2 separate regions of the Homo sapiens genome follow, and region 2 is linked to region 1. Evidence: fine-mapped expression QTL. A gene starts in region 1. The other region holds a variant in brackets. All regions are shown on one strand. Distances are from middle to middle. Region 1 holds the start of CDC5L (cell division cycle 5 like). Region 2 holds the start of MIR4642 (microRNA 4642).

What was found. PIP is the estimated chance that this variant, and not a neighbour inherited with it, causes the effect.
Region 2: its variant is fine-mapped to the expression of CDC5L in whole blood (TOPMed, PIP 0.92).

The regions. Positions count from the first base shown.
Region 1 is chr6:44,377,707-44,394,536 of GRCh38, forward strand. It overlaps CDC5L (cell division cycle 5 like), which reads left to right and starts at 10,000. Exons shown (of 16, transcript NM_001253.4): 1 at 10,000-10,162; 2 at 12,562-12,665; 3 at 14,961-15,122; 4 at 15,740-15,867. The coding sequence starts at 10,118. LOC124901323 (a long non-coding RNA gene) reads right to left here and starts at 10,213. Exons shown (of 4, transcript XR_007059595.1): 1 at 9,333-10,213; 2 at 8,344-8,463; 3 at 7,675-7,823; 4 at 6,856-7,405. SPATS1 (spermatogenesis associated serine rich 1) reads left to right here. Exons shown (of 9, transcript NM_001372081.1): 9 at 1-2,473. RefSeq lists an enhancer at 9,882-10,081.
Region 2 is chr6:44,426,448-44,443,277 of GRCh38, forward strand. It overlaps CDC5L (cell division cycle 5 like), which reads left to right. Exons shown (of 16, transcript NM_001253.4): 13 at 35-277; 14 at 3,266-3,463. MIR4642 (microRNA 4642) reads left to right here and starts at 9,194; the gene lies at 9,194-9,275. The variant C/T (reference allele first, on the strand shown) is at 6,742.

The sequences.
Region 1 (16,830 bases):
CAGTGTCTGCTGAGGGCCAGCCTTCTGGCTCATAGATAGTACCTTCTTGCTGTGTCCTCATATGATAGAAAGGGTGAGCTAGTCCTCTGGGGTCTCTTTTACAAGGGCACTAATCTCATTCATGAGGGCTCTGGTCTCATGACCTAATCGCCTCCCAATGGCCTTACCTCCTAATACCATCACCTTGGGGATTAGGTTTCGACATATGCATTTTGGGGTGGGGAGGACAAACATTTAGACCATAGCAGTGAACTTTCATTGCTTTTGGTAAAACTTTTCATTTTATTAATACCTTTTGGAATGTTTCTCTAATGTTAACTTGGTACATGTCAGAAAAACATGAAGGCTGGATCTATACCAGGTAAGTAATACTATTGCCCTGTAGCTGCATTCCCCAGTTTAGTATTGCCTATCTACAATAGCCAAGCAGGGTGAGAGCTCAGTGACCACCAGTCATGAGTTTTAGGGCCTCCTGTCAATCAGACAAGAAGCAAACATTTGGAGGAAAAGGTGAAAACAAAAGCTGCCTCACAGGCTTTGACACAGTCAAACTAGTGACTCACGGCATTTTTACAGCCAATCTCTTTCTCCACTAGGGAACCCCCTTGGCTGGCTAATGAAGGCTGCAGATCTAGTATCTCCAAAACCTTAAAGTGGAAAGAGATTGGGGTCCATGCTGAGACTCCACATGTCTATGACATGAGCATGATTTATTTCCCAAAATGTTTGTTGTCTCCAGTCACAGCCAAAGTGAATGAAGCAGGTTTAGAACACGATACATTTAGCCAGGTGTGGTGGCTCATGCCTGTAATCCCAGCACTTTTGGAGGCCGAGGCAGGCGAATCACTTGAGGTCAGGAGTTCGAGACCAGCCTGGTCAACATGGCGAAACCTGTCTCTACTAAAATCACAAAAATTAGCCAGGCAAGATGGTGGGCACCTGTAATCCCTGGTACTCGGGAGGCTGAGGCAGGAGAATCTCTTGAACCCAGGAGGCAGAGGTTGCAGTGAGCCAAGACCATGCCATTGCACTCCAGCCTGGGCGACAAGAGCGAAACTCCATCCCAAAAACAAAGAAGCAAACAAAAACCACAATGCATTCATGGCACCTTCATATGTGCCTCTAGACTAACTGGCAGAGAGCATGGTGCCGACTGCCAGCTGCTGTGCCTGACCACTCCTTGGGTTAACATCAGCATACATCCGTGCTAATCCTCTGGCCCCTGGGTCACAGGCCCACCCCTGCTCCCAACATAATAATTTAAAAAAACACCAAATAATTTTTAAAAAGACAGAGGCTGCCAAGAGATTTTCCAGGACACATTAACTTCTGAAAAGATAATAATTTTTTGTGCCTCTATTACTTAAATGTAAAAAAGTCTTCTTTCCCCTAGTCAAAAACAATGCCCCACCCCTAAAAAAAAAAGTCAACTGCAACCACCAGGTGGGTTAGTAATGGAGGACACAATATAGAACAAAAAAAGATTCTGCAGAGATTTCCTGGTGAGATTATCTAGGTGGCACAGGAAACTGCTCTCAGAAGGTTCCCTGGTGTTTTGGAAGGAGGGAGTCCTACACCATAAATATATTAAGGAAAACAACCGGCTGGGCGTGGTGGCTCACGCCTGTAATCCCAGCACTTTGGGAGGCCGAGGCAGGCGGATCACGAGGTCAGGAGATCGAGACCATCCTGGCTAACATGGAGAAACCCTGTCTCTATTAAAAACACAAAAAAATTAGCCAGGCATGGTGGTGGGCACCTATAGTCCCAGGACTGTACTATACTCGGGAGGCTGAGGCAGGAGAATGGTGTCAACCTGGGAGGCGGAGCTTGCAGTGACCCAAGATTGTGCCACTGCACTCCAGCCTGGGCAACAGAGTGAGACTCTGTCTCAAAAAAAAAAAAAAAAAAAAAAAAAAAAGAAAGAAAGAAAGAAAGAAAAACAACCAAAATACAGTTTTAGAAGGTTTGGAGTAGTCTCTAGGTTTCAAAGAGGTCTATATAATTCCTAGGTGCTGCTCTAAGTAGATATGATTTGATTCCTTTTTCTTTTAATCCAGGCCGCAAAAACCATGAGTAAAAAAAAAAAACACAAAAAAACAAAAAAACCCTACACAACTGTTAGATGATTGAACTTCTGGAGTTGCAGAGCTACATTTCATCCCCTGAAAATCAGGGCAGTTTTCGCTGGATCTGGTGTTCTCTGTGGGTACATCTCGATGCCCAGGCCTTATTCCACGGCACCTCAATAGCTGTCAGGTAGAGTTCCACTGCCAACTTTGGACAGCATGAGTATGTCTACGTGTGTGGGGAGACAAAGGCATAGAGAAAGGCCACATGGGAAAAATATGTGCATATCATAGCTGTTCCAGCTTTTGCTTCTTTCCAGCTAGAAAGAGGTTGAACCTGTTAGATGTAAAGATCCCCTTCACCTCACTGTAGGGTCTTTGGTAAATAAAAACATGTGGGTGCAGAGGTGTGTGTGTGTTCAATTCTTACTTTCAATAACTGAAGTTCAATAGAAATAAACTATATGTGAAACTTTACAAGTAAATTTCTTAGTGTGCAATTTTATATTGCACAGAGGTATTCTAATTTTGGATCCTGGGATAAATGAAAAATGACCTCTGTGGACATGAAGAAACATTGTATTATTCAGCTAGTGGCACCAACGTTCGAATTAGTGATCTCTGAACTCCAAGTTACCAAAATGTTAAGATAGTAGGATATTAAACTTCTAAAATTCCACAAGGAATTTAGGAATATACTGTAGGATTCCACTAATTGTCCACATTTCTAATACGAGGCACTCAGTTTGGTTAGTTTTGTTTTGTTCTTAGGCATTTTGGTCTCAAAATCTAGGCAGGTAAACACATTGTTTACAGGACTTGACTTGGTGAAGTATTTTAGAGTTGGAGTCCTTCAAGATCATGTCTCTGTCCTAAAGAGGCTTTTCTTTCCTGGCTGGGAAATCAGGAGAGAGTACTTGGGTATATAATTACCTCTACCCAGAACTGAGCCACATGCCTGATGCAGGATGGCGCACCTTTTTACGGGGTCTACGAGCCAAGTTCCCGGCACACTCTGGGAGAGGATGTGGGAGCCCATTTGAGATGACTGGTGTCCTTCCCATGCTGGGGAGCCCCAAGAGGTACTGTGGCCTGATGCCACCCTCAGGAATGGGGAGGCCACTACTGACTCACCTGGGAGCCAACACTGAGGCTCCTAAATCCAGGCTATAACACTTACATGAAAAGTAAACATTTTGTGGTGTGCATGAAGGGTCCTAGCCTTATATCAAACAAGCAGCCAAAATATCCCAATGTCTTATTTTCTGAGGAAATGTGTCTGCCTCCACCAAATGTGGTGTGGGGGCAGCAGACGGATCCAGCTTCCAGTGGTGAAGCTGTGAGCAAGGGTATGCTTATCTGGCTAGAAATGTGTTCTTTTGTCTGAGCACAGTTTGGGCTGGAGTAAAAGTTGGGATTCTGTTAGACAGAATGGATTTAGGGGCATAGTTATACTAAATATTGTTTGTTCTTTATTTAAAATTCATTTAAATGGGAGCTCTGCATTTTTTTTTTTTTTTTTGAGATGGAGTGTCGCTCTGTCGCCCAGGCTGGAGTGCAGTGGCGCCATCTCGGCTCCCTGCAAGCTCTGCCTCCCGGGTTCACGCCATTCTCCTGCCTCAGCCTCCCAAGTAGCTGGGACTACAGGCACCCGCCACCACACCCGGCTAATTTTTTTGTTTTTTTAGTAGAGACGGGGTTTCACCGTGTTAGCCAGGATGGTCTTGATCTCCTGACCTTGTGATCCGCCCGCCTCAGCCTCCCAAAGTGCTGGGATTACAGGTGTGAGCCACTGCGCCCGGCCGAGCTCTGCATTTTTATTTGTCAGAACTGGCAACTTATAGTGCAGGTGGCACAAAGGAGATAGATTTGAGGACTAAGTAGGAGGTCAAGGTGGTGAGACTCTGGGATGACTTGGGAATGGGTGGGGTAAAAATATACGAGAAGGAGAAATGGCAACTGGATGGATGATGGTGTAGTTGCCAGGGCCATCTGGACCTCATGTAGCATCTTTGTACAACTAGAGAATGATGCCCTCTTGGTGGACACAGCCCTGTGGATGCACAGCTTAGTGAGCTGTGTGCAAGCTGGATTTAAATCCCCATGTCCTTGTTGTGCAGTGAACTTCTTACACAACCATATGCAGCAGCCTTGTGCTATTTGCTGAAATGAGGCATGCTGGGGAAGTACAGATTTTTTGGCAGGAGGTCAATGTTGGGCAATTTGACATTGAGGAACTTGTGACACTGGTGGAACTATCTAGGGTGTAGTCGGGCATATAAATCTGGGGTCTGGATATACGCATGTGAAAAATAAAGTCCCCTGTGAGAAATGTATATTCTAAGCCTGTGACATGTAGATGCAGGGGCTAGATATAAATTACACAATTGGAATATCCATCCCAAACTGAGCAACGAGCTCAAAAAGACCCTCAAACCTCAGGGCCTGAGCAAAAGCAAATTCTCCTTGGGATCATTTCTCCACTTCAGGGCACAGGGGACTCCCTAGAGAACACCCACAAAGGTGAACCCTGAGAAAGAACTATAAAACCACAACTGGATCCACCACAAGGAATTGTCAATGGATGAAACTCAAGCCAATTTAGGTGATGTTTTCAGCAATACAACATGAATTATCAGGATTTAGGATGCTTGGAAATCATTTTGTAGCAACTTGACACCAGGACATTAGCTTTTCCCAATGCTGGTTGAGGAATTTCTAAATGGGAAGGAGGGGCTTATGGATGGCAATCTGGTGGATGGGTTGGGCTAGAGGACCTGTCTTGAAATGATATCATCATGCAATGCATAACGACATTTTGATCAACTCTAAACTGCATATATGATGGTGGTCCCATAAGATTATAATTCCATATTTTTACTGTATCTTTTCTTTATTTTTTATTGTTTTGCAAATGTCTTTTAACAATTATTAGAAGACATTTTACTGATAAATGTTTTTACTGTACCTTTTCTGTATTTAGATACACAAATGCCATTGTGTTACAATTGCCTATGGTATTCAGTACAGTAACATGCTGTACAGGTTTGTAGCCTAGGAGCAAAGGGTTATATATACCATATGGCCTAGGTGTGTAATAGACTACTGCATCTAGATTTGGTGTGAGTACATTTTGTGATGTTCTCACAACAGTGAAATCACCTAACGATGCGTTTCTCAGAATGTATCCCTGTCATTGACACATGACTGCATTTGCAAAGCAGGACAGTATTTTTATTTAAATTATTATGCATGTTTATTTGGGGAGATGATGAAGATTGTGAGAGTCATTAATCCTGCCTCTAAACTATGCCTTGCTGTTGCCATAGGCTTTTGCCCCTAATTTTAGCCCTTTCCTGCATAGTTTCTTGGTGGTGAAAAAACTGGATGAAAGGGAAACTAGAATTTTGATTACTTTCTCTGCTAAGTAAATGTCAATCCATTCAGAACCAGCTACCCAGAGAGGGGTGAGGGGTAGGGAAATGGGGACAATGCAACCTAAAAATCCTCCTGCTAACATCTCTGGTTCCCCTTTGTAAGTTGGATGGACTTCTAACCTCTTTTTCCTGAGCCAGAGTTTCCCAAATTGTGTTTCCTGAGTGTCAATGGATATATAACACAAAAGGTTTTTAGGGTCAAATTAGTTTGGAAATGCTATATAGTAAGTCCTCATTTTTATCATTGTTAGGTTTTTGGAAACTGCAACTTTAAGCAAAAGGATGTATCATGTAATCAATTTTACCATAGGCTAATTGATATAAACAAGAGTTAAGTTTCTATGGCATATTTCTGGTCACAAAACATCAACGAACTTCTAAACAAAGACCAAAACACTTCTAATATTAAACATTGAAATAAGTGTAAGCTATGCATACATTTAAGAAAGATTAGGCTGGGCACGGTGGCTCATACCTGTAATTTCAGCACCTTGGGAGGTCAAGGGGGGCAGATCACTTGAGCTCAGGAGTTTGAGACCAGCCTGGGCAACATGGTGAAACCCCATTTCTACAAAAAAATACAAAACTTAGCCAGGCATGGGGGTGCACGCCTGTAGTCCCAGCTACTCGGGAGGCTGAAGTTGGAAGATTGCTTGAGCCAGTGGGGTGGGGGTCAAGGCTGCAGTGACCCGAGACTGTGGCACTGCACTCCAGCCTGCACAGAGTGAGACTCTGTCTCAAAGAAAAGAAAAGAAAAGAAAGATTAATAAAAACAAGAAATGTACTCCCGCTTATTCCAGTTCAGGGTTACAGGTGGCCGGAGCCTATCCTGGCACAAGGCAGGAATCAGTTCTGGACAGCACACAGGACACCATCCCATTGCAGGGCACACTCACACACCCTGACACTCACTCAGACTGCAGGCTTGCAAATGAACCTCACCTGCACAGCTTTGGGATGTGGGAGGAAACCAGGGTATCTGGAAGAAACCCACACAGACAGTGGCCCTGGCCTCAAGCGGATTTTTTTTTTTTTTTGAGATGAGGTCTCGCCCAGGGTGGAGTGCAGTGGTGTGATCATGGCTCACTGCAGCCTCGACCACCCAGGCTCAAGTGATCCTCCCATCTCAGCCTCATGGGTAGCTGGGATCACAGGTGTGCACCACCATGCCCAGCTAATTTTTAATATTTTTGTAGGGATGGGGTCTCACTATGTTGCTCAGGCTGGTCTCAAACTCCTGGGCTCAAGCAATCCTCCTGCCTTGGCCTCCCCGAGTGTTGGAATTACGGGCATGAGCCACCATGCCTGGACTCATCAATGTTATCATGAAACGATCTTGCACAAAATGATGTTATTCAAGGATCTGCTGTATTAACAAAGGAGTGTATTAGCTTCCTAGGGCTGCCACAAGAAAGCACAATAAACTAAGTGGCTTAAAACAAGAGAAATGTATTCTCTTACAGTTCTGGAGGCTGGGAGTCCAAAATCAAAGTGTCAGCAGGGCTGGCTCCTTCTTGGGGCTCAGAGGGAGAATGTGTTCCATGCCTTCTCCTGGCTTCTGGTGGCTGCCAGAATCCTTGGCATTCCTTGGCTTGGAGCTGCATCACTCCAATCTCTGCCTCTTTCTTCCCATGATATTCCCCCTGTGTGTCTGTATCTTTTTTCTTCTCCACTTATAAGGACACTACTCATTGGATTTAGGGACAACCTACTCCAGTATGATCTCATTTTAACTTGATTACATCTGCAAAGACTCTATTTCCAAATAAGGTCACATTTACAGGTAGCAGGGGTTAGGACTTGAACATATCTATTTGGGGGGAATACAATTCAACTCTCAACAGGGAGAAACAGATTTTTTCATCTGACAGCTTCTTACAGGCTTTAATTTCAGTGACTCTGCAAGAGGGGAGGACATAAAAACCATGTTTTTTTTTATTTTTTGTTTTTTTTTAAATGGAGTATTTTATGTAACTGGTGTTCTAAGGAACATGTTTGGGGAAAAATGCCTTGGGTGAGTGAGACTATTTAGCAGTGGCCACTCACTTTACCAAAGATTCACAGTGACTGACCATATAGTCTGGTTGCCTAACGATAGATGCTTCTTATGGCTGTCCCTCAAGAGATTGTTGGCAGTCCCTGTGGCCTCTTTGTAAGGGTTCCCATACCTGGCTGGTGAGGCTGCAGTAGTATGGTGGGGGAGGCTGGCCAAGCAGGCCATCCTGGAGAACAGTGTGTTTGTGTTCTGATGTTTGTGGCTACAGTGCTCTGGTTTCAGACATCCTGGAACTTCCATGATGTTGCATTTTTCTGAATTCTGAAAGGGAATATACAATCTGCATGTTCAAAGGTGAAATGAGGGACAGTTGACAGGGCTGTTTTACCTGGATGAGTAAGTTGTACAATGCATGTCTCTAGGGGTGGAATTCACATAGTGGAGATGGTAGATCCAATTTTCTTGTAATAGAGTGCCCTGTTCTCAGAACACCAGTATTTTGTGACAATTTTCCAGCATGTGGCATAAAGTGTCTTGAGGAAGGGGCACCTTTTTCTAGTTCTCACAAAAGTAACATATGGTAAAGAGGTGGCCCTGAGTGGGAGGGAGAAGCCTTCATCAACTCTTGGAATGTGAGATCTGAAAGGCCTCTGACAGAGTATTGGTCCATCTCTGGAATTGTTAGGACTCTTCCTTACAAATAATAGAAACCCAATTCCAAGTGGCTAACACAAATAGGAAACTAATAATCAGAATGCAAGGACAGGAATGCAGCTGGGACTCAGGAACATGCTGGATCCAGGTACTCTGACATGGTCAGGACTTACATCTCTCTCTTTACCTGCTTTTTTCCCTTAGTCCAAAACATGGTGGTAGACAACTCCTGGGTGTCACGTGTTGGATGTTCAGCAGTCAGTAGAGACTGACCTCCTCTATGCTCCAGTGTTAAAATCTCGAAGACCTAGTATTTGATAGCACAACAGGGTGACTATAGTAAAAAATAATTTAATTGTACATTTAAATTAACTAAAAGATTATAATTGGATTGTTTGTAAAACAAAAGATAAACACTTGAGATGATGGATACCCCATTTACCCTGATGTGATTATTATGTGTTGTATGCCAGTATCAAAATATCTCATGTACCCCATAAATATGTGTGTACTATGTACCCACAAAAATTAAATATAACAAATTAAAAAAAAACCGCCCCATTACAGGAGAGGTCCAAATGAAAACATTTTGTTTGAGTTTAACTGGCCACAGGTCCAATGGTTTCTTATACACCACACAGTGGGTAAACAGCTCAAGGGCGGGCTGCCCGCCAGCATAAACCTTTGAGTGGCAAACACTACCAGGGTGGCCATGGAAAATGCCCTCTTGCTGACCATAATTGCACAGAATGTGTGTAAATAAAAGCTAAAAGGAAAAAGAAAATTCTGTAGCTCTTCCAGAAGAGGCAAACGGAGAAATGAAGAAATATAAAGAGATAGGCACTATATAAATACTAAGTACTATAAATAGGGCATTTCCCAACCCACTAAATATTTTGATATTTTCCAGGGATGGAGCCAGAGATGTTCTGGAAGGATGAAGGAGACTGCATGAGTAATTGGGGTGGGGTAGCAGAGAGTTTGCCAATCCCTACCTCACTGGGTTTTAGTTATGTTTCAGTTAATCTGCCTCCTCATTTACGAGGCGGGTATTGTTAGCTCCACTTTTCAGATGAGGATACTGAGATTCAGTAAGGTTATTACCCAAACTTATGAGAAAGCCAAGATTTCACAATATTTCAACCCAACTCGACTTTGTCTAATACCAGTGCGTACCAATGGCATTATTAATCCAGACTGGGCGATGAATTAAAAACTCTGACGTGACGTTTCTGCAGGTTTCTGGAAGAAGCCTGGATCACCTGGGGACGGGGTGAAGTTGGCGTTGCCCTCCTTGCAGTAATAGCTGCTATTGTTTTGCAGCAGTTATTATGGATCAGATACTGTGCTGGGTCTATGATCTCATTTAGCCCTTACGACAATCCTGTGAGGTTGGCATTACTATGATCTCTATTTTACAGGTTAGGAAACTGAGCCTTAAATAAACTACTGGATTTTCCTGAGTATTCTGTGAATAAATTCCTATTACTGAAATACTTGAAAGGGCTAGATTAATAAATTAACAAAGCCTTCTTCGGAGCAACTGTGCTGAAATTCCGTACGCGTGACGTTCCCACCCTCTGCCACTCGGTGACGTCACGATCAATCCCACCACTAAGTTCCCAGCCAAGCGCTACCGCCGCTATCTCGCGAGAGCCGTAGTTTCTTCCATTCTGTTTTGGACATGCGCGGGGCGTAAGGCGCTTTGGCCAGAGTGGTTTGATGGTTTTGTGTTAGTCTTCCTGCAGCTGAGCTTCCACAAGACACTTTTTCCCTTTCAGCCACCCAATATCTCGCGAGACTTGCTATTCTGCGCCCCCTCCCACCTTGCGCTTGCGCAGATCTTCAAAGCAGAAGGTCGCGCTTGGAGGAAGTGGCGGCTTTGAGTCCGGTGGCCCAATCGCTGTTACTACTTCTCTGAAGCTCCTCTCGGCTGCTTGCCGAGACACCCTGCCGCCAAGATGCCTCGAATTATGATCAAGGGGGGCGTATGGAGGAATACCGAGGTAAGTCTCCTTTTCCCGCCGTCCGCTGCCCGCCGCTCCCTCTAGCAGCTTGTGCGCACGCGCGCGGAGGTCGGGGGGGCGACGAGGAGACCCTGTGGGGTCTGCGTGGAGGGCAGCCCGGGGGCTGACCCTTGGGGCCCTTTCCGTGTGTCTGGCCCCGTGTTGTGCGAGCGCCAGTAGGACAGGGACCGTGATGTCACCACCTGGCTACTCGGCTCCAAGCTCACTTGTTAGGCCCTGAGTGAACATTTGTTGACTTGAATACGCCCCCTCCCACCCCGCCCCCCCGCCCCCCCCGGCCCCGGGAAGAACTCAGAGTTCCAACTCAGCCAGAGTTGGTCCCCCGGGGCACCATCCACTCTTAGTCCAGGCACCACGACTCTGTCTCATACTCAGAAATAAAGAAGTTGCCGTGGCCACAACTTTGTGTCTCCATTGACTTCCTTGCAGAGGGGAAGCAGTTTGAGTGCCAGGTTCAGAGAGCCCGTTTATGCCCGCATCTCTCTGGTTATCTGTTATCAGGGCATAACCTGTCTGCCATCTCGACAGATCCCAAGGTCTGTCTCTTTCTGTCACTGCCTTTGCCTAGATAGAAGCCAGAAAGGAAAAACTGGCCTAGGATAGTCTCTGTTTCCAGAAACGTAGTGGATAGTGCCATTGGTGAGCCAAAGGGCAGTAGAGTGGGAGTGAAATAGAAATTAGATTTTAGTGCGTTTTGTGTTCAGAGTGTACCGAATTTATCAGTTTCTGGAGCACATCATGTCTTTTCATGCTCTGTGTCTTTTTTTCGTTACATTTTATGGCTTCTTTTTTTTTTTTTTTTTACATCTTTTGCCTTCCTAGCGCTTGACATCTTTCTGATCATCCTTCAAACCTAGTTCGGAAACACTTCTTGGAATCTCTGTAAGAATTAATTGCACCCCCGATATTCTCATGATACCTTTTTCTTCCGTTTGTTAAAACTTGCTTTGTCTTTTTGTAAGCATCACATCCTCTGTGTGGTACTCGGTAAGTTTCTTAACTTCTGAAAGCCTCAGTTTTCTACTTTTTCTAAATTGGGATAATAATACTTAACCTCTCTTGAGGATTACACGAGTTAATACGTTTGGAATATTTAGATCAGAGTAGGGCACATAGTAGCCTCTGAGTAAGAGCTAGTTGCTCTTTCACCTCACCAGACAGCATGGCGAGAGGACCAGGTCTTGGTATCCCTAGGACCTAGGACAGTAACCAACATGAAGTAGGTTGCTCGACAGGTATTTGCAGAATGAATCAAGTAGAGTAGGTATCTGCTGTATCTATTTAATTGAAAATGTGTTTAAGTGTAGTTGTACTGCAACCAAGTTACAAAAAAGACAATGAAAACTGCCTCAGCTTCCACCGAGGGAACCAGACTGTTTAAATTGGAGAAGAGATGACTTCTGAGGGAGAGACAGATATAAAATCAAGTAACAGTAGGATTCCTATGCAGTGGTCAAAGCTCTGCAGTCTTTTTAAAAAGTATCTTTGATCATGGGAGATGTAGAGGATGGAGTGGGGTATCTCAAGAGGCACGTACCTCAAATCCAATGTGGGAAAAAAAGCCTAGAAGTAAAATCGCCTAAGTGCATGCATCTATGGCTCCATTAACTTTCTTGTCTTTGGCTTGGCTTGCCAGGCTTCCTTGAGGTTGGTGCATTCCACATGGCAATGGGTGCCCTGGTGAAATGGTATCTAGAGATGGGGGGAAATTGGAAGGAGAGCTGACTAGTGGGGTTGGGGTAGAAATATGTAATTCTTAGGTTAGACCTGAGATGTGGATTCTTGGGTCATAGTTGGGGTTAAGGGGCTGGAGGGGAAATGCCATGTATAAACTTGAGACAGGAGGCTTGGATTGGAGAATATATTCACCAGAGTCCCAACTTGCTTCTTGAGGCCTGGATATGTCCTGTTTGATAAGACCTTTCCCCAAGGGAAAGGTAGATGTTTCAAGGTAGATGTTCAGGAAGTGTTTTTTGAGTGAGTGTATAAATGAATGAGTTATACATTTTTGTTGTTGTTGTGTTTTTTAGTTATCCTTTTTGAAGAGAAGGACAGCCACACGTTGAAGAATACTTTTTCTTAATTTTTGTCATAAAGTAGGGTTTCTCAGATTGGGCTGTTCCCACTCCCAATTTATTGGAGAGTGTGGTGTAAGGGTGGGTAGCTGTCTTTCTAAGGGATTTCTTCTTAATTTCTCAATTCTTGGTTGCTGTTATTATAGTTAATGAGGTTTTCATCCTTAGTCTTTTAACCTAGGTGGTGTGTATGTGCATGTTATATGTCTCTTTCTCCAATAGCCCTATCAGAGTTAATTTAAATTTTGTCTTTTCCCACTTGGAGTTTTGTGACTGAATGTACTCTTTGGCAATTTTTTTTAGGATGAAATTCTGAAAGCAGCGGTAATGAAATATGGGAAAAATCAGTGGTCTAGGATTGCCTCATTGCTGCATAGAAAATCAGCAAAGCAGTGCAAAGCCAGATGGTATGTATCAGTTTAATAAGTGGAAAACAGAAAAGGAGCTTAATTATGATGATGGAAAATGTCAACTCTGTGAACCTTATCAAAGAAAGCAGACATTGTAATATAACAAGGCATGGAGTGGGAGATGGAAGTTGGGTGTTTGACTTAGCTGTCACTTGCTTCCTGTGTGGTCTTAGGCAAGCCATTTTTCTATCCCTCTCCCCTGCCCTTGTTTTCTCCCAATTAGGGATAATAATACTTGGTCCTGACTGATAGAGATGTGAGTTGTCATCTAAATGGGTTAATGTATTTGAGAGTGCTTTGTGAAGCATACAAAGTCTACTTTCAGGGACAGATGAGCCCCAGCTTGTAAATTAATTGTGTTCTAAAAGTGCATAAGTTAGCTGTTTTAGAAATTACTTGCTCAAAGAAATAAATGATAAATAATGGCTAATTTTCTAAGTAAGCCTACAGTAGTTGAGTTTCCTCATAATACAGTTGAAATATTATATATTTTATAGTTAATATGTTATATATTATATATTAAACATACTTAATGTTATATATTATATATTAAACATATTTAATATGTTATATATTATATATTAAACATATTTAATATGTTATATATTATATATTAAACATATTTAATATGTTATATATTATATATTAAACATATTTAATATGTTATATATTATATATTAAACATATTTAATATGTTATATATTATATATTAAACATTTAATATGTTATATATTATATATTAAACATATTTAATATGTTATATATTATATATTAAACATATTTAATATGTTATATATTGTATATATTAAACATATTTAATATGTTATATATATTAAAAGATATAAGCCAACTCTGAACCTGTGGTGTCACCTCTTTTTTATTTTTATTTTTTGGGACGGAGTCTTGCTCTGTCGCCCAGGCTGGAGTGCAGTGGCGTGATCTCAGCTCACTGCAAGCTTTGCCTCCCGGGTTCACGCCATTCTTCTGCCATAGCCTCCTGAGTAGCTGGGACTACAGGCTCCTGCCACCATTCCCGGCTAATTTTTTGTATTTTTAGTAGAGACGGAGTTTCGCCGTGTTAGCCAGGATGGTCTTGATCTCCTGACCTCGTGATCCATCCACCTCGGCCTCCCAGAGTGCTGGGATTACAGGCGTGAGCCACCGCGCCCGGCTGGTGTCACCTCTTAAATCATAGGGTAGTGGACACGTGAAGCTATTTAGGGTGTTCTTGGCATGAGTTATTTAGCACCATCCCCAAGTCATGTGGCATTAGGAAAATACTTTGGATTGTATAAGAATGACCTAATTTCCTAGGCACCTGGTTAGGGGAAAGTATCAGAATGTAGAAATTGGCCAGGCGTGGTGGCTCACATCTGTAAGCCTAGCACTTCGGGAGGCCAAGGCTGGGATCACCTGAGGTCAGGAGTTTGAGACCAGCCTGGCCAACATGGTGAAAACCCCGTCTCTTCTAAAAGTACAAAAATTAGCCAGGCGTGGTGGCTACTTGGGAGGCTGAGGTGGGAGGATCGGTTGAACCCAGGAGGTGGAGGTTGTAGTGAGCTGAGATGCTGCCACTGCACTCCAGCCTGGGCGACAGAGTGAGGCTTTTTGAATGTAGAAATTGGCTGTTAAGAGGAAGATGATTTTTAGGCTGAAGAAGTCGTTCTGATTTCTGTTTGTCTTAGTGGTACCAGTTCCTGCTGTCATATTTGGTAGGACTTAAGTCCTGTTTGCCTGCCTGTCATCCAGCTAAGTAGACTGGATGGAAAAGGTGGGCTGGGTGGGGAATTAGGAAAGACAGAGGGAATGTCATAGTAGTTTTACTTAAATTTTAAAACATATCAAATGAAAGGTTACGGTGAATTTAGTGAGTGTAAGTCAAATGCTTAAAGAAATAAGCCATGGTGTGAGAATCAAAGCATGAGAAAATAGTATGAAAACTGGAAACACTGTAAGAAACGTGATTTTGTATTGTCTTCCAAATATTTCAAAATTTCTAGAAAAGCGTAAATAAATAAAAACATGATAGATGAGAAAGAAGGCTTATGATCATGATTCAGTGAAGTAACCTTTTTTAACCATTACTAATCTTGCATAATTAAAATAAAATAGAATGTGATGAGATGGGGAATATTGACTGGGGTAAGTGTAACCACACAGCAAATATTCTGTTGTCAAAAAGAACAGTTTTTGTAATTGAAGGATGAGAGCACAAGTCAGTGTATCCATTGTGCAAATTGGATATTTATGCCAGGTAACTGATTAATATATAAAATGATCTATGTTTAATAGGTATGAATGGCTGGATCCAAGCATTAAGAAGACAGAATGGTCCAGAGAAGAAGAGGAAAAACTCTTGCACTTGGCCAAGTTGATGCCAACTCAGTGGAGGACCATTGCTCCAATCATTGGAAGAACAGCGGCCCAGTGCTTAGAACACTATGAATTTCTTCTGTAAGTGAGTCTTCAGAAAGAGCATAGAATATATGTATATGTTCTGAAAGAGGCTGAATAAACTTTGAGTATTTTCTGTCTTTAAACTTTTAATTATGGATGTGAGTAAACCCAAAGCTAAAGCCATTGGATAATATTTTCCATATCTCAGATGGTTGATCAAAATTATGCCTTCTGTCATATACTTCCTAAAATAATAATTTAAAAGAATTATACAAGTCATGCATGTTCATCATAGAAAATCTGGGGAAAAAATAGTAAAAGAGCAAATAAAAGTCACCCATAATCACACTGCTAAGAATTAACTACTGGAACATTTTGGTTCTTTACTAATAGTTTTTTTTTTTTTTTTTTTTTTTTTAAATTTGTATGGCTGTACCGCATTTGTGATTAGGATCTGTTTGGGTTCTATTTTAGAGTGATTGAAACCAGTCACTGAAATCAGCAAATTTTAATATCATTTCTTTCAGATGAAGTGATAGTAAAAAGGCTTTATGTTGTTAAAGCCCATCCATTGGTTTTTTTGGGGGGAAAAATATCGTCAGAACTTGGAAATCTGGTAATTTTAACTCTAAATGGTACTGTAGTGTGACTAACTCCTATGGGCTTTTTTCTAGGGATAAAGCTGCCCAAAGAGACAATGAAGAGGAAACAACAGATGATCCACGAAAACTTAAACCTGGAGAAATAGATCCAAATCCAGAAACAAAACCAGCGCGGCCTGATCCAATTGATATGGATGAGGGTAAGTGTATGCTTTGAGGAATTTATTTCTTTGGTAACTGTAAACTCCTTGGGCCTCACTCTTTTAGTTCCTTTCTGAACTCCTCTACTTTAGAATCCCTTTTTTTTTTGAGACAAGGTCTTGCTCTGTTACCCAGGCTGGAATGAAGTGGCACAATCATGGTTCACTGCGGTTTTGACCTCCTGGGCTTAAGCAATCCTCCCATCTCAGCCTCCTGAGTAGTTGGGACTACAGGTTTATGCCGCCATACCTGGCTAATTTTTAAATTTTTTTGTAGAGATGGGGTCTCCCTGTGTTACCCAGGCTGGTCTCAAACTCCTGGGCTTAAGCTATCCTCCCTTTTCTGCCTCCAAAAGTGTTGAGATTATAGGTGTGAGCCACCATACCTGATCCCCAATTCTGTCAGCAGTGTTCTTATTCTAAGTATCTTTCCAAATATGTCCAGTGTTTTCTGTTATAGAGTAGTTGCTTTTTCTGAACAGCGCCCCTTCATCTTCTGTTTCTTCAATTCAGTTAATTAAGTTAATTAAGTGTTACGGGGTGTGGTGGTATGTGCCTGTAGTGCTAGCTGCTAAGGAAGTTGAGGTGGGTCGATCTCTTTAGCCCAGGAGTTGGAGGCCAGTCTGGGCAACATAACCCCTTGAGCCCAGAAGTTGGAGGCCAGCCTGGGCAGCATAACGAGACCCTGTCTTTAAAACTGAGTAGTGTAATTCTACTGAGTAGATTTTTCAGAGGCTAGAGGTGAGCCCTTGAAGATCCTGTTTCTCATTCCTATTCCATGGAGAGAGACATCAAGTCAGAATATTGGACCTCAGTCCTCCTATTAATTACTTATTTGACTATAGGCAAGTTATTTATTCTGTGTGAGAAGGCAACCTGTGAGACGGTGATGGAGACTTAACAGTGATTCTGGGAGGCATTGAATCAGGAATTCCACAATAGAAAGTATATGGAATCAACCTA
Region 2 (16,830 bases), 49 kb after region 1:
ATGTTTGGTAATTGTATTTGTTTTAAAATTTTAGGTAAATGAAACTATTCTAAGACCCTTAAATGTAGAACCGCCTTTAACAGATTTACAGAAAAGTGAAGAACTAATCAAAAAAGAAATGATCACAATGCTTCATTATGACCTTCTACATCACCCTTATGAACCATCTGGAAATAAAAAAGGCAAAACTGTAGGGTTTGGTACCAATAATTCAGAGCACATTACCTATCTGGAACATAATCCTTATGAAAAGTTCTCCAAAGAAGAGCTGAAAAAGGTATGATTGAGCTGGAATATTTCTTCTTGAGATTTAGGTAGTTGTTAGGTGCTGTGTATCATGGACAAATAATGAACTTATTTTTCCCTGTTGGTATTCATAAACAACTGAAATGTATGATTAGGAGATGCATGTTTAGATTAAGTGTTATGAAAAGGACATGCTTTAAATACCTCCATCCCCCGTGTTCAGTGTGATAGACCTTTAGCAAATAAACACCGCCAGGGTGTTTTTGGTTCATGGGTATTAATGGCTTCGTTGACAGTTGTTACAGTTGCCGTTTTCTGTATTCAGCTCTGCTATCTCTGAATAAAAATTAGATGCCTTTAGTACTTAAACATCACTTATTTAGAATAATATGAAGAGGTGAGAGAGACTAATATAAAAATGTTTATAGATTAAACCTTTTAGCTATTGAAAGGAAGGAAGTATTTTTTTTACTGAATATATTCCCCTCACATGATTTCCCCCTACTCTTTTGGATAAGGACATGAAGAAATGATTTCTTATATGAAGTCTGTATCTGGTCTTTTCTTCTACATGCATTTTATTCCTTCTGTTTTGACAGAGCAAACAACTGTGATTGTAAATAGAAATCTCCATAATTGTATAAGAAGATACAGTGGGTCTCATCGTTGGAAGCAGAGTGGTCATTAGCTTAAAAGTCTTTTTTTCTTTAGCCTTCAGCCCTGAGGAGCAGTGATAGACCTATGGATTTGGAATGAGCTGCTGTATACTTAGGATAAAACAAACAAGATTCTTACAAACTCTCCTGTCTTCTCTCCTGCATTCTTCCTCTTTCTTCGCTTTTCACAATTTCTTACTTTGTGTTTTCTTTATTGCATAAGTAATACATTATTTATTATAGGATTTTTAGAAAATAGAGAAAGGAAGGAGGGTTTCGATTTATATTTCAATAACTTGTCCCTGATTTCAGAATAACTGAGTCACTCATTTTTTAGTAAGTGCAGTAGGGAAACTAACATCTGTTGAGTTGCCTACTCTGTCGAGCACATTTAATCATTGAACTGGGATTGAGAATCAGGCTACGAAATTGATACTTGCACAGTTTCCTCTTTTGAAAGTGAAAATATGAGGGGAAGAGGAATTTAGGAAATAAATTTTCCTAAATTGTATGTATGGAAACCTAAAACAAGGATCACATTGTTGCTTTTGGAGATTCTGTAGAGGGTAAACCCTAACACAATTTTTGAAAAATAATAATTCTAAGTATTGGTTTGTAATTGTTTGAAACAAAGTAGCTTAAATATTCTCTCATATTTTATCTGTGTATATCTCTCTTTGTTCCAAAAAGAATTTGAAGCAGCTATTTAGTTAGCAGATTATTTATGGATAGTTTAAAGATAACTTAGCCATATTCTCTCGTAATGATTATAAGATCTGAACTTGTAAATTTTTACTCTGTGCAGTTTCAGAGTGAAATAGCATTTCTCTTTTAATAAACTGTCAGATTTTCTTTTTCTTTAATATACTTTAAGATATGTTAACATTGATTTGTTTCCATTATTTCCCTTAAGGTATTAAGTGTCCATTTTTTCTTCTATAGAGATGATTTTCCGTTTCTTTTGTTAAAATTTTTTGTTTATCAATCATTTCTCTTGATTTTGTAGATTTTGATGTGTTTATTTTCATTATTACTGGAAAGATTGAAAGCCTTCTGTAAGGCACAGAAGGTGGTTCCCAGTTTTTCATAAGCCATGAAGCAAAGGGCTGGGAAAAAATTCATATGCTTATGGAATTCTGTGTGTCTGGCATTGGGCTAGGCTCTATAGTATATTGTTCACTTAATCCTAATAACAAACACATCTGATCTAAGGTCAGCATCATCATTGCTTGGAAAGCTGTTTTTCAGCTTTCCAGGCTGAAAAAGCCCTGAGAAATGGGCTCAGATAAATTAAGCAAGCTCAAAGAGCTGCTTCAATGGTAAAGCTGTGATCTGAACCCAGGCCTGTCCAGCTTTCCCTCTCATTCTGTCATTTTACACTATTTTCTTTAGTAGTGAACTAAACTGGTTTATGATCTATCATCTAATTCGTGCCCCAGTCTCATTATCTGGCAATGTCAGGGCATTCCTTCAGGATGAGAAAAATGCCATGTGACAAAAAGATGCCTAGCTCCCCTTTACCATCACGTGAGGTCCTGCACACATGGTGGAGTGGGAGAGTGGAAGGGGCACACCCAGTGGTGCCATTTGTATTCTGCCTCATCTGCCTACTAACGATGTGGTCTTAACAAGTGGTTGAATCTCTATGAGCCTTAGTTTCATTAGCTTTTTTTTTTTTTTTTTTTTTTTTGAGACTGAGTCTCACTCTGTTGCACAGGCTGGGGTGCAGTGGCACGATCCCAGCTCACTGCAGCCTCCACCTCCTGGGTTCAAGGGATTCTTGTGCCTCAGCCTCCTGAGTAGCTAGGATTACAGGCATGTGCCACTACGTCCTACTAATTTTTACATTTTTAGTAGACACGAGGTTTTGCTGTGTTAACCAGGCTAGTCTTGAACTCCTGGCCTCGTTATCCGCCCACCTCAGCCTCCCGAAGTGCTGGGATCATAGGAGGGAGCCACCGTGCCTGGCCAAATTTCATTAGCTTTTAAATGAGGTTAATATTGGCTAATTTGTAAGGTGATTATGATCTTTGGATATAATGTAGGTAAAACTTTTAAACCTAGTTTCTCACACACACAATAGGTACCTGAGAAATGATAGCTGCTGTTATAGTGAGTGAAAGCAAAGGATGTTTATACTTTTGAGGAAACATGGATGCTTGATTTTTAAAAAGCAGTCTGCATTGACTCAAAGGCTTCTTAAGCTATTTTTCCTAGGTATTGTTATCCACCCTTCCAAAAAACAACCAACCACATCTTGGATTTGACTCAAGGCATGAGGGAAAAAATTAGTCTTCTAAAGCTCTCTGGATATGGCAAGTGTTTGTAGTACTTAAACTTATTGAAATTATTATTGTAAACAGGCCCAGGATGTTTTGGTGCAGGAGATGGAAGTGGTTAAACAAGGAATGAGCCATGGAGAGCTCTCAAGTGAAGCTTATAACCAGGTGTGGGAAGAATGCTACAGTCAAGTTTTATATCTTCCTGGGCAGAGCCGCTACACACGGGCCAATCTGGCTAGTAAAAAGGACAGAATTGAATCACTTGAAAAGAGGCTCGAGGTTGGTATCCTTTTAAAATTTTAATTTTAAATGTACTTTGATTGAGATAATGAACTAAATAATGCCACTGGAGACAATGTCAGAAAAACACACCTGAGGTGCTTATTGCCTTTTTAGTTGTTGGAGAAAACTACACTTAAGTGTTGGATCTTCTTGGCCTTGTTCATTGTTTTTTTTTGTTTGTTTTGTTTTTGTTTTTTTTTTAAAGAATTGTTGGCCTTCATGACTAAAGAGTGCCCTGCAAGTTGACCAGAGGTCAATCAGAACCTTTAGATGTGGGAGCAAGGAGCCAAGAAGCCAATACTAGTCACTCAGAACAGGCAGGTCATTGCTAGCATAGCCTGTTTTCTCTGAAGAGGAATCTCAGCAGTAACGAGGAGTTTTCTTTTTATAACAAAGAGAGTACATTTACAAAACTTAAATACAATTCTGTTCATCCTTGGATTACTGTGAGTTTGAGTTAGGGAGGGCAGAGCTGGATTATCTAGTTAGTGGCTTCCATGATTTTTCATGTCTGTGAAAATGTTGAAAACATACTAGATGCAGTTTCAGGACATGTGGTTTCTTAATATAGTTTGCATATTTTGAATTCCAGAATCTGTGTAGGCATTTTGCCAATGGCATGTAAATTGTGGTTCACAGACCACCAGGCTGCCTTGTGCATTCTTTTTTTTTTTTTTTGAGACCTAGTCTCAGTCTGTTGCCAGGCTGCAGTGCAGTGGTGCAATCTTGGCTCACTCCAACCTCTACCTCCTGGTTTCAAGCGATTCTCCTGCCTCAGCCTCCCTAGTAGCTGGGACTACAGGCACGCCCCACCACGCCCAGTTAATTTTTGTATTTTTAGTAGAGACAGAGTTTCACCATGTTGGCCAGGATGGTCTTGATCTCTTGACCTCGTGATCCACCCATCTCAGCCTCCCAAAGTGCTGGGATTACAGGCGTGAGCCACCATGCCCGGCTATGCCTTGTGCATTTTTAATGGTAATCTTTAGGGGCATTTCTAAGGCCAAGGTGGGATGGGAGAGAAGGGGTACTTCAGGCAGTCATATACAGAAAATCGTCTTGGTTTCCTCTTTTATGTGATTACCAGTTTCTCTTTACAAAAAGTGCATTTGAAAATATTTTTATTTAGGGTTAAAGCCAGAAGTAGTAAAATCACTTGGGGTGGTTGGGGCTGTATGGGGCTGAGGAAATGAGCAGGAAAAAGCAGTATCTTTTAATTTGAGTTATTCTGAGTTTTAATTTAACCATTAAGATCACATATATATAGGTAGCTGATGGTTAATGCCTGTGAACCTCTTTTTTTCTCAGTGAGAAATGACTGGTTCTGAAGTAATTCTCATCTTGGGTAAAATCTTAGTTCAGTGCTGCTAATTATTTGTATTACCAACTTCCAGCAGGGTGTGCTGTTGCTCTGTGTTGTGGTTCAGTGTTAAAGCCAGGGAAAATAGAACATCAGTGGTTAAATTGTAAGTTACATTTTTTTGTTGTGTAGGCTTCATTTCTTATAAATGGTAGTTAGCAGTGTAATTGTGATCTAATATCAGCATCATCACTGATTGAAAAGCTATTTGGAAAGCTTCTTTGTATTATTTATATATAAATACTTAGGTTTCTTACTTAGTATGAAAATCTTCTCATTTGAGGTGGGTAAACTCTTTTTGCCGCAAATGGCAAGAACATTTTGTGCTTTTTTAAATGGTAGAAAATTTTTTTCTCCCTAAATCTCATTTACTTTGTTGAGGTACTAACTTTCATGACAGCAAATAAATGTGTCACACAGTGAGTGGTGCCATAAAGTACAGTAATTTTTATTTCTGTGTTGAATTGGTCTTATGAATTTTAAAGGGAAAAATACAGAAAGAGCCACTCCTGTTCTTTTGGAGATTTATTTGGGTCGTTTATGAGCAACCATTAAAAACATGTGGTTCTCTTTGTTCAGTTCAGTACCAGGAACTGAAATCTTCCGTTGAACTATTTTTGTTGAAGGATTGGTGATTTTGGAGAATATTCATAAAGCAGTCTGAAGTCATTTTTCTTTTCTTGACTCTTGGATAACTTACTTTATTGTTTACCCAGCTAGTTACTTTTAAAGAATACTTAATCAAGTCCTTTAATTTGGTAAACTGTGCTTATTTCAAATGAAAGTTCATGAAATCTTTTAAAAAAAGAAAAGCAGCTCAAAGACTTGAATAAACAAACCCCCATTTTATTTGTATCCATCACTAATTCAGAACTAGGTTTCTTTTAGCTTGTTTTAGTTTTTGAAGACACAGTTCTATTGGTTTGAAATACATAAATATTTTATTTCAATTGTGGTAATTCTTTCATTTCAGTTGATTGCTAAATTATAAACATTATTCAAAGTTTGTTGTGGGGAAGGAACTCCAGTTATATTGTATAAACTAAATGCTATACTTAAATTATCCTTTCCACTCTTAGGTTCAGGAGATAAGCCCTTCTCTGTAAGCACTGTATGCCATGGCTGCCAGTGTGTTTGATTTTTGCTGCCATGAACTTTGGAACCGTGAATCTAAATTATGGCCCTATCACTGCCTATCAAGCAAGATGAAGTCCAGCTTTGTCGTGGCTGGTGTCTCCTGAATGGATTAAAAAAAAAAAATGCCCTGAGGTTTATATTGGAGGTAGTCTTTGAGCCATTCATTACTCATGATTAATATTTGAAACTTAGCACTTAAGTGAAAATCCTTAAGATACTCATTTAAAACTAATAGAACCATCTCAGATTTTATGTAGAATGTGGTAGAGGATGTGTGTGTGCAAGGAGTTTGTTAAATAAATAGAATCAGAATGCAGTTACAGGTCAGAAATAAGTGGAAAAGACTTCTGAATTGTAACCAAGTCCATGTATTTTATTCTGCTTTGGAGGCAGAATTGAGTTTAGAACCTTGCCAGACTTTTGTGTGTAAAATAAGACAGCAAGAGCAAACACAGCAATGACAGTTAATATAAGGAAAGGAAAAGTTATGAGAGCATACCATGCTGTGTCCATTTTTACATGGTGGCAAAAAGCCCAGTGTATTTTAATAGCTTTAAAGACACTAAGATACATTGCAGGGGAGTAAAGTGATTGCTATTTATAGTGGTATCCCAAATTAATAAGAAAAACTTTATTTCTTTTCAGTGTCATGTTTTTTTAAAAGGGCGGGATGGCTATAATTCAGTGTAGGAAACATTTTCACAAATGGTTAAAAATAAAAGAGCTTTAGTACTTTTATTTATTCACACATTCAGTAATTATTACTGCCTATCTACCA[C/T]GTACTGGATACTGTTCTAGGTCCTGGGGATAACAGCAAGGAACAAGGCAGACAAGTTCTCTGTGTTTGTGGGCTTCAGTTACCTGGAAAATGCTTAATGTGTGGAGAACCTCGTTTTCTGATGATGCCAGATAAATGAGTCATTACTGTATTTGGGAAGTGCAAATAGAATTTTAAGTGTTCTAATTTGTTTCTACTTTAAGTGGAAATAGGAAATCATCTGAAGACATAATTATTTTGAGTGAAATAATTTCCAGTGGGTGCAAAAGTGAAATGAGAAGTCTGAATTTAGGCATGCCGTTAAATTTAATAGTATTTGAAATAGTATCTAAACTGCTGTGTTGAGGAAGTTTGGCTGAAAAGTGGATTTTGTCACGTTAGCTGTAAAAATGGAAAGGCTTTCCTTAGAGATAGAAAATAGGTCCAGAAGTAATACTACTTCTCCCTGTAATTTACTGGCACAGTCAACTGTAGTCAAGAAATATTATATAACATAGACTTCTTAGAAGTAAAGTAACTTAAAGAACACAGATAACACACTTAAAATCCTTCTCAGTGTACTTGTAGCTCTTATGAGGACCCCTGACTTGTCTGAAGGTTATATTTCTGCAAAATTGGCTGCACAGTAGATCTCATTTTCTCAGTGATTTTCATTATAAAGTCAGATATTTTTACACAGGAAAAAATTTCCTTAATACTTTAAAGAGGGAAAACTTAGGGCAAGGATTTAGTTAGTAGACAGTTCTGGGTAGAGTGCTATATGTTGTCAGATATCAGCAGGTTTATGCTTATGTTGCCTTGTGTAGAGGTGGGGGAAGTGACTTGTGGTACAGGAGAGGAATTCACAGTACTTTGGAATACTCTCTCTTTCCCAAATTCTGTTCTTTGCTATGACCCTTATAGGCACTGACAGATTTCGTAGTTGTCTCTGGTAAGAACTTTATGAGCTGGAACAGACATCCTGATACAACCAGGTTGCTTCTGTTATGCCTCAACATGAATTGAATTTGTTTTATGCAGTTTACGTATTTCACTTCCTAATGTATGCAGATGTACAGTGCTCTTGTATTGCTTTGTTCATGTATTACTGTCCTTATAAAGGTTTTTAGTAAGGTTTTGCCTTCCTGGTTAGCATGCTTTTCAGGGATGCAATCTGATGGTTGCTAACTCATAGATGCAAACAATAATTACTTTCTTGGACCTGCGTCTCATCAGAGTAGAGAAGGTTCACTGATAAAAATGCTGGTAATTGGTATAGAGATTAAAGGAGAATCACTCATAGACTCCTGTTGTTTGCAAATGTTTTGGTGATTGAACCACATCTTGACTATTATATGGGATCATATTGCTGATTGATGGACTGGGAAGTGGAGCTCCCATTGACTGCCTGTTTATTTTGGGTATCCTTAAACCTGTTTTTCCAGTGGTATAAGGTTATATTCTGGGCCCCCAAGCAAGAGTTTCAGTGAGGGGTGCTCTTAATGTTTCTGAACCTCACTGTAACGGACTTTTACTGAAGACAGTATTGGAGACCCAAGGATAATGTGTTTATTTTGGAATTACTTAAGCTTAGTAACCTTAACAAACTTAGCTTGAAAGTAACAGTTACACTTTCATAAGTCCCATACAGCTCCCTTTTGTAATGACCCGAGGAAACACTTATGGTTCCACTGATTCATCTCCTGGGGACCATCAGTTTTCCATTGGTCTCTGGCCAGTCTTTTTTAGACAGTTTCTCTTCTATGCATTTAAAAAAATAACATTTCTAGGCGTCTTTCTATAAATAATACCTGTGCTTTGTAGAAGTTTTAAAAGAAGTAGAAAACATAAGAAAAGGAACCTACTATCCAGACATAATCACCTTAAACATTGTGGTGTATATATGCACCCCGCCCCCCCTGCCCCCACATACTCCCATATATCTTTTTTTTTTTTTTAAATGTTTGGATGAAGGTGTTTAAAACTAAACTGGGATCATATTCTACATTTTTCATTTAATAGTTGTAAATATGATTAAACACTAGTTATATTCCACCCTACTTCTAAAAAGGTGGTAAGTGGAACCTTTTTTTCTGTATAATTTTTTTGAGAGATATTTGTTTTCTTATAGTTTTATAGCTTGTTAATAAAAGAATTTAGAATTTTAAAATACAAACTGAGGAAAGTAAAAGCTTTTCTCAGGTGTCAAAATTCTTATAAGTGGGTACATGTAGGTGAGAGTCTAAATCAGGGTAAGAATGATGGGCAGAATTGCTAATTAAGGTCTTATTTCTTGTTTACATGTGTCTAGAATAATTTATTTTTCAGGGAGCTGTCTGGTGAAATTTAAGCCATTCATTTCCACAGCTTAAATTTTTTCAGGCATGTTTGCATTTCAGGGGGCTGAGCCAAGGAGGGGGACAGTCAGTTTATTAGCAGTGGTGTGACCAGTGTATTGGACTTTCAAATAGGGCACAACTGCATGGCATCGTCCCCTGGTGGCTGTGGCCTAGGGCAAGCCACAAAGCCACTCAGTGATGATGCCAGCAGTTGTGCCCTACTTAACCTCTCTGGGTCTCACATTTCCTTATCTGTAAAATTGGGTGAGTAATAGTTTTTGTTTTTTTTTTTTGAGATGGAATTTTGTTCCTGTTGCCCAGGCTGAGTGCAATGGCACGATCTTGGCTCGCTGCAACCTCTGCCTCCAGGGTTCAAGCAATTCTCTTGCCTCAGCCTCCCAAGTAGCTGAGATTACAGGTGCCTGCCACCACGCTCGGCTAATTTTTGTATTTTAGTAGAGACGGGTTTCACCATGGGTCAGGCTGGTCTTGAACTCCTGACCTCAAGTGATCCACCCACCTTGGCCTCCCAAAGTGCTGGGATTACAGGTGTGAGCCACCGTGCCCAGCCGAGTAATTGTTTTTATTTGATGGAAGCATGAGTTTGAGATAATATAAGATTAAATGAGATACTGTATGATTAGCAAATAGCAGGTGTTAGTAAATGGGAATTCTCCTCCCATGTGTCTTCAAGTCTATATCACCCTTAGAGTTACCTAAATTGGATTATACTTGGTTTGATACTATGAGGTATTAGGAACTAACCTCACTTTAAACAATCGGGTGGCTAAGTTTTTATATTCTGTAAATTTTGAGGAATGTCTGAAGTTTTAGACATGGGCTGATTTTAGGAGAGAGATTGTTGTACTGAGTGAAGCTTAAAACTCAGATTTTGGTTAGCGTAAATAGATTTTACATCGTGGATTTTAATCTAACATTTCATGTATACATTTTGGTGTGTTGAAATAGTTGACATATTTGTAAATTTTAATGTCTCATTATATTTCACTACATTGATGTTTCATGATTTGTGGTGTATGGTCTTGAGAAAGTAGCCTTTAGAGTAGATACAATATTGAATTTGACTTTTAAAAAATCTTATAAGAATTTTCAAATGTACCCCAGAGTATACTGGTATAATAAATCCTCATGTATTCTCACCCAGCTATGACAGTCATCAATCATAGCCACTCTTGTTTCCCCTGTTATCCCCCCTTCCACTATTATTTTGAAGCAAATTTTAGATACCGTATTATGAAATAGAATTACGGTGCGTGAAATTTGTCAGCTTGGCCTTCCTACCGATTTGTATGTGGATATATTCTTAATTTCCTGCTTTGAATTGAAGTTTACCCTTTCATATTTGATCAAGTCAGCTTTAATTGTATCAAGTGTCGGTCTACTTTAAATTCCTATCAGTGATAGTGAACTTCATTTTATTTAAGACTATTAGAAATTTTTTGTCAGTACATATTTAAAGCACAGTGTGGTGGCTTCTAAAGTAAGGTGTCCATCAGGGCAGTTGCTAGTGCTTGTTTTAAAAAATTAATTTAGAAATCTGACTGGTTAAATCTGAGTCTGATTTTCCCTTTTTCTTTGAATTTTAGGAAATAAAGTTTTATACTCTCTTGTACCTCAGTGTTGTTTCTGTGTGTGGATGGGTGTTGGGAGGAGCTGGGCTGATTTAAGCTAGTCCTGTCCCTGTATGCATGTACATTTCATGCTTGAGGTTTATTGGCTTGAAAAAGACCAGAAACTGTAGGTTAGGATTTTTCCTCTTAAAGCATATTGAGCAGTCATAGGTTGAGCATTTTACAAAGCATGCAGATACCCTCCTTTGTGTTTTAATAATCAAATGACAGGCGTAAGATAACTAAGTTCAACTTGAATATTAAAAGCTGTAGTCCATTTCTTCTTTATATGTTTAATGACTATATAGTTATTTGGCTAAATTAATTTTTTTCTGTGCTTAAGTTAATTTTTGTACAATTTATGTCCATATTTGCTTGGAACCTTAGCGCAATATTTGAGCCAGAAGACTTGCAAAGCTTGAGCTAAATGAAATAAAATTGTTGGCATTAAAGGAAAGCTAACAACTTTGAAGTTTTAAAATCTCTGATGGTTTGAGTATAAGAAATGACTCCATTGGATGAGGTGAGGTAATTCCAAGATACAGGGTACTGATAATACTAAACGTACCTTGATGACTAATTAAGCAGTTTCTGAGTATAGGTATTATGCTGTAAAACCAAACTGGAAATGGACTATCCATGGAGCATAGTGTATAGCTGAGTTATCAATGAAAATGTTAATTCGTATGATTAATTTTTAAAAAGCATTATATGTATTAATTTGAAATTCTTTGCTGTTAAGGTTTTGGAATGTGTGTTTGAATCCAAATGTGATTGGAGTATGTAATAATGGGTATTCTTAGAACATGCTGAATTGTTTTACTTTTTTGGAGACAGGGTCTTTCTCTGTTGACCAGGCTGGAGTGCAGTGGCGCGATCATGGCTCACTGCTGCCTCCAACCTCTCAGGCTTGGGTGATTCCCGCCTCAGTCTCCCAAGTAGCTGGAACCACAGGCATGTGCCACTATGTCTGGCTAATTTTTGTATTTTTTGAGAGACAGTGTTTCACTCTATTGTCCAGGTTGGTCTCGAACTCCTGGGCTCAAGCGATCCACCTGCCTTGGCCTCCCAAAGTGCTAGGATTACAGGTGTGAACCACTGTTGCCTGGCTGAACATGTTAAATTATAGAAGAAGGAACTTGAATGTAACTTGATGGATTTAGTTGTTCATATCTTATTGGAAATGAGGACTTTTTGGTAGATATAGTTGAGAAAACAACTGATACCTAGCTTGTGTAATGACTCTGGCTGAAACAGAGTTTGACATCCTAATTGCCTGTTAGAATCATTTGGGAGTTTTTAAGGACACAAAGATCTGAGACCATTTAAATCAGAGTCTCTGGAGTTAGGGCACTGGTGCTGGTAGATTTTAAAAACTCCACTGGCAATTCTGAAGTTTAGCTGTGGTTGAAAACCACTGGCGTAAAAAGACATACTCCAGAAATATTTGAAGTGGAAGAGAGTGAGTACAAATTATTGTCTTCTTTCCTTGATGGTGTTGTAAAATTTATGTGGTGGAAGTTTTGTCTTTTTTTTTTTTTTTTTTTTTTAAACTCTAACTCCATCCCACTACTGCCTTTCTAGAACTTAGAAAGTACTGCTTTTGATTTCTGGGGAAAAGTATTTTTGCATTTTGTATCCAGAAGAATTGAAGATGAGGAATTTTTTTTTCTCCTGTGGAGGTAATGTTTCTACTCCTTGTATACCTTATTTTTATAATATCCTTACTGAGATATAAATTACATACCATAAAGTTAAGACAATTTAAAGTGTATAGTTCAGTGGCTTTTAGTAAATTGACATAGTTGTGCAACCATTATTGGAACATTTACATCACCTCAGAAAGAGATTCTGTATCAGCAGTTACTCCTCATTCCCCCCAACCTGCTCACCCCTAGGAAACCATTAATCTACTTTTTGTATCAATAGATTTGCCTATTTTGGATATTTCACATAAGTGGAATCATGTAATATGTGGTCTTTTGTGATGGGCTTCTTTTACTTAACATAATGTTTTCAAAGTTCATCCATGTAGTAGTATATATTAGTATTTGTTTTTATGGCTGAGTACCATTCCATTGTGTGGATAATACCACATTTTATTTATCCATTTATCAGTTGATGGATATTTGGGTTGCTTCTACTTTTACCTATTATGAATAATGTTGCTATGAACATTCGTGTACAGGTTTTCGTGTGGACATGTTTTCATTTCTCTTGGGAAATACTGGGAGTGGAATTACTTAGATACTTCCTTCACCTCATTTGAACTTCAGGGTTAGAAAATCTTCCCATAGAGTTGGGAAGCACCGCGAGTCCATGTTCTAACGCTATTTTTACACTGTAGGACAGAGGTCCAGTGTGTGTTGTTTGGTCTTGTGGTCCACAAGGGGCAAACTCCTCACTTAAAAGAAGGACCAGCTGTTTTTCCTTGCTGTGTTTCCAGGAAAGGGTCCACATAGACTTATATTGAAGTTGGAATTTTAATGAAGCTTTTAAAGCCTCATCCTTTTACTCCCTTAGTTGTTAGGGAAAAGAGCAAAATGTTTGAACTCTTAGTATCTGGAAAATAATAATGGTAATCAGACCTGACATTTGTTGACTGCTTATTCTGTGCCAGGCACTGGACAGCTGAGGCTTTTTATGTCTATGATCTTATTTAAGCTTCATAACAACTTGTAGCAATGACTGCCATTTTACTGATGGAGAAATGGAGACACATAGGTTAAATAACTTGCATCAGCTCAAAACAGCTGGGCAGCAATGCTGGGTTGTAAGAGTGACTCACTCTTACCCCGCTGTACTGTACTGCCTGCCTTCAACCAGTATATCCTAACTCCCTTAGGAGACATATAATCATTGCCATGGAACTTGGTTTGATTTATCAGAGGTTCATTTATAAAGGAAATTAACAGTTTTCATGAATTTATTGTTCAAGTAAATTGCAGAGGAATAAAAGCTTAACTTTTATAAAAATCTGAAGAAATGAATGGTTTTAAAGGAGCTTCTTCATTTAAATTAATTTTAGATCCATCTCATGTTTGTAAGGCACATAACATGCAGTGTTACTCGCCTGCCTCCACCTCCCATGGGCTTGACTTAGACTTTTTTTTTTTTTTTTTGAGATGGAATCTTGCTCTGTTGCTCAGGCTGGAGTGCAGTCGCCTGATCTTGGCTCATTGCAACCTCCGCCTCCTGGGTGTAAGTGATTCTCCTGTCTCAGCCTCCCGAGTAGCTGGGACTACAGGTATGCACCACCATGCCTGGCTAAATTTTGTATTTTTAGTAGAGATGGGGGTTTTGTCATGTTGGCCAGGCTGGTCTCGAACTCCTGACCTCAGGTGATCTGCCCACCGTGGCCTTCCAAAGTGCTGGGATTACAGTTGTGAGCCACTGCACCTGGCCATATTTTTAAAAGTTCTATTTTAATTGACAAATAATAATTGCATATGTTTATGGAGTAAGATGTGATTTTTTCCATACACATATGTGAAGTGATTAAATCAGCTAATTAACATATTAATCCCCTCAAATACATACCACTTCTTTGTGGAGAGAATATTTAAAATCCTTTTTTTTTTTTTTTTTGCTATGGAGTCTTGCTGTGTTGTCCAGGCTGGAGTGCAGTGGTGTGATCTAGGTTCACTGCAACCTCTGCCTCCTGGGTTCAAGCGATTCTCCCACCTCAGCCTCTGGAGTAGCTGGGACTACAGGCGTGTGCCACCTTGCCTAGCTAATTTTTGTATTTTTAATAGAGATGGCGTTTCACCATCTTGGCAAGGCTGGTCGTGAACTCCTAACCTCAAGTGATCCATCCACCTCAGCCTCCCAAAGTGTTGGGATTACAGGTGTGAGCCACCATGCCCAGCCTAAAAATCCCTTCTTTTAGCTATTTTGAAATAAACATGATTCTGTGATTACCATGCTATGTAATAGATCACCAGAACCTATTCTTCCGTCTAACTGAAACTTTGTACCTTTGACCAACATCTCCCCTTTCCCTATCTACCCTTTACCCCAGTATCCTCTGGTAGCCACCATTGTACTCTCTACTTCTATGAGATTAACATTTCTAGATTCCATATACAAGTTAACATCATATGATATTTGGCTTTCTGTGCCTGGCTTATCATAGTTAGCAGAATGTCCTCTGTGTCCATCTGTTGTTGCAAATAACAGGATTTCCTGTTTTTTAAAGACTGAATAGTATTCCGTTTTATGTGTATACCATATTTTAAAAATCCGTGTCTTGGCTGTTGTGGATAATGCTGTAAAGAACGTGGAAGTGCAGACATCTCTTTGACATACTGATTTCAATTCCTTTGGATATGTATAGCCAGAAGTGGAATGGCTGGATTGAATGATAATTCTGTTTTCAGTTTTTTGAGGAACCTCCATACTGTTTTCCATAATGGCTGTACTAATTTACAATACCACCAACAGTGAACAGGGGTTCTCTTTTCTCCACATCCCTTGCCAACACATACTGTTTTTCATTTTTTTAAATAACCAGTCTAACAGGTGTAAGGTAATACCTTATTGTGGTTTTGATTTGCATTTCTCTGATGATTAGAGATGTTAAGCATTTTTTTCATGTACCTGTTGACCACTTGTATGTCGTCTTTTGAGAAATGTCTATTCAGGTCCTTTCCCCATTTTAAAAATAGGGTTACTTGTTTTTTATTGAGTAGTTTGAATTTTTTTGTTTGTTTGTATATTTTGGATATTAACCCCTTATCCAGGCCGGGAGTGGTGGCTCACACCTGTAATCCCAGCACTTTGTAAGGTCTTGTTCTTTTTTTTTTTTTTTTTTTTTTTGAGACAGAGCCTCCTTCTGTCGCCAGGCTGGAGTGCAGTGGTGCGATCTGTGCTCACTGCAACCTCTACCTCCTGGGTTCAAGCTATTCTGCTGCCTCAGCCTCCCGAGTAGCTGGGACTACAGGCGCCCGCTACCATGCCCGGCTAATTTTTATATTTTTAGTAGAGACGGGATTTCACTGTGTTGGCCAGAATGGTATTGATCTCTTGATCTCATGATAGACCCACCTCAGCCTCCCAAAGTGCTGGGATTACAGGCATGAGCCGCCATGCCTGGCCTACTCTATGCCTTTTGATTGGGGAATGTAATCCATTTACAGAGTAATTATTGATAGGTGAGGACTTAACCAGTGCCAATTGTTTTCTGTTTATAGATCCTTTGTTCTATTCCTCCTCTCTTGCTTGTGTGTGTGTGTATGTTGTGTGTGTGTGTGTGTGTGTGTGTGTGTGTGTGTCTTAATGGCTTTCTGTAGTGGTATGCTTTGGATTTTATCTTTTTATCTCTTGTCTGTCTGTTACAGACTTTTGCTTTGTGGTTAACTTGAGGCTTACATAAAACAGCTTATATAACGGTATTTTAAGTTGATAACAACTTAATTTTAATTGCATACACAAACTATACACTTTTACACCCCTTTCTCCCATATTTTGTATTTCTGATGTTATACTTAAAATTTTTATATAATATTTATTCCCTTAACAAATTGTTGCACTTCAGTTGTTAATAGTTTTGCCTTTTAACCTTTATACTAGAGATATAATTGATTTACTCACTGCCATTAGAGTATTAGAATGTTTGGATATGACAATGTATATACCATGCCCTGGCCTGGATAAGGGGTTAATATCCAAAATATACAAAAAAAGTTTTATACTTTAATAAATTTTCATGTTATTAATTAGTGTTCTCTTCCTTCAGCTTGAAGAACTCCTTTTAGCATTTCCTGTAATGCAGGTCTAGTGGTGATAAAGTTAGCTATTGATTGAAAAAGTCTTTATCATCCATTTGGTTTTGAAATACAGGGTTGCTGGGTATAGTATTCTTGGTTGGCAGTTTTTTTTTCTCTCTCTTTCTTCTCTTTCTTTTTCTTTCTTCTCTCTCCTCTCCTGCCCTGTCCTGTCCCTGTCTCTCTTTCTTTTCTTTTCCTTCCTTCCTTCTTTTCTTTTCTTTTCCTTCCTTCCTTTTCTTTTCTTTTCTTTTTTTTCTATTTTTAAATATATCATCCCACTCCCTTCTGGCCTGAAAGGTTTCTGCTGAGAAGCTATCTGATAGTCTTATGGAGGTTCCTTTATACATGGTGATATGCTTTTTTCTTGCAGTT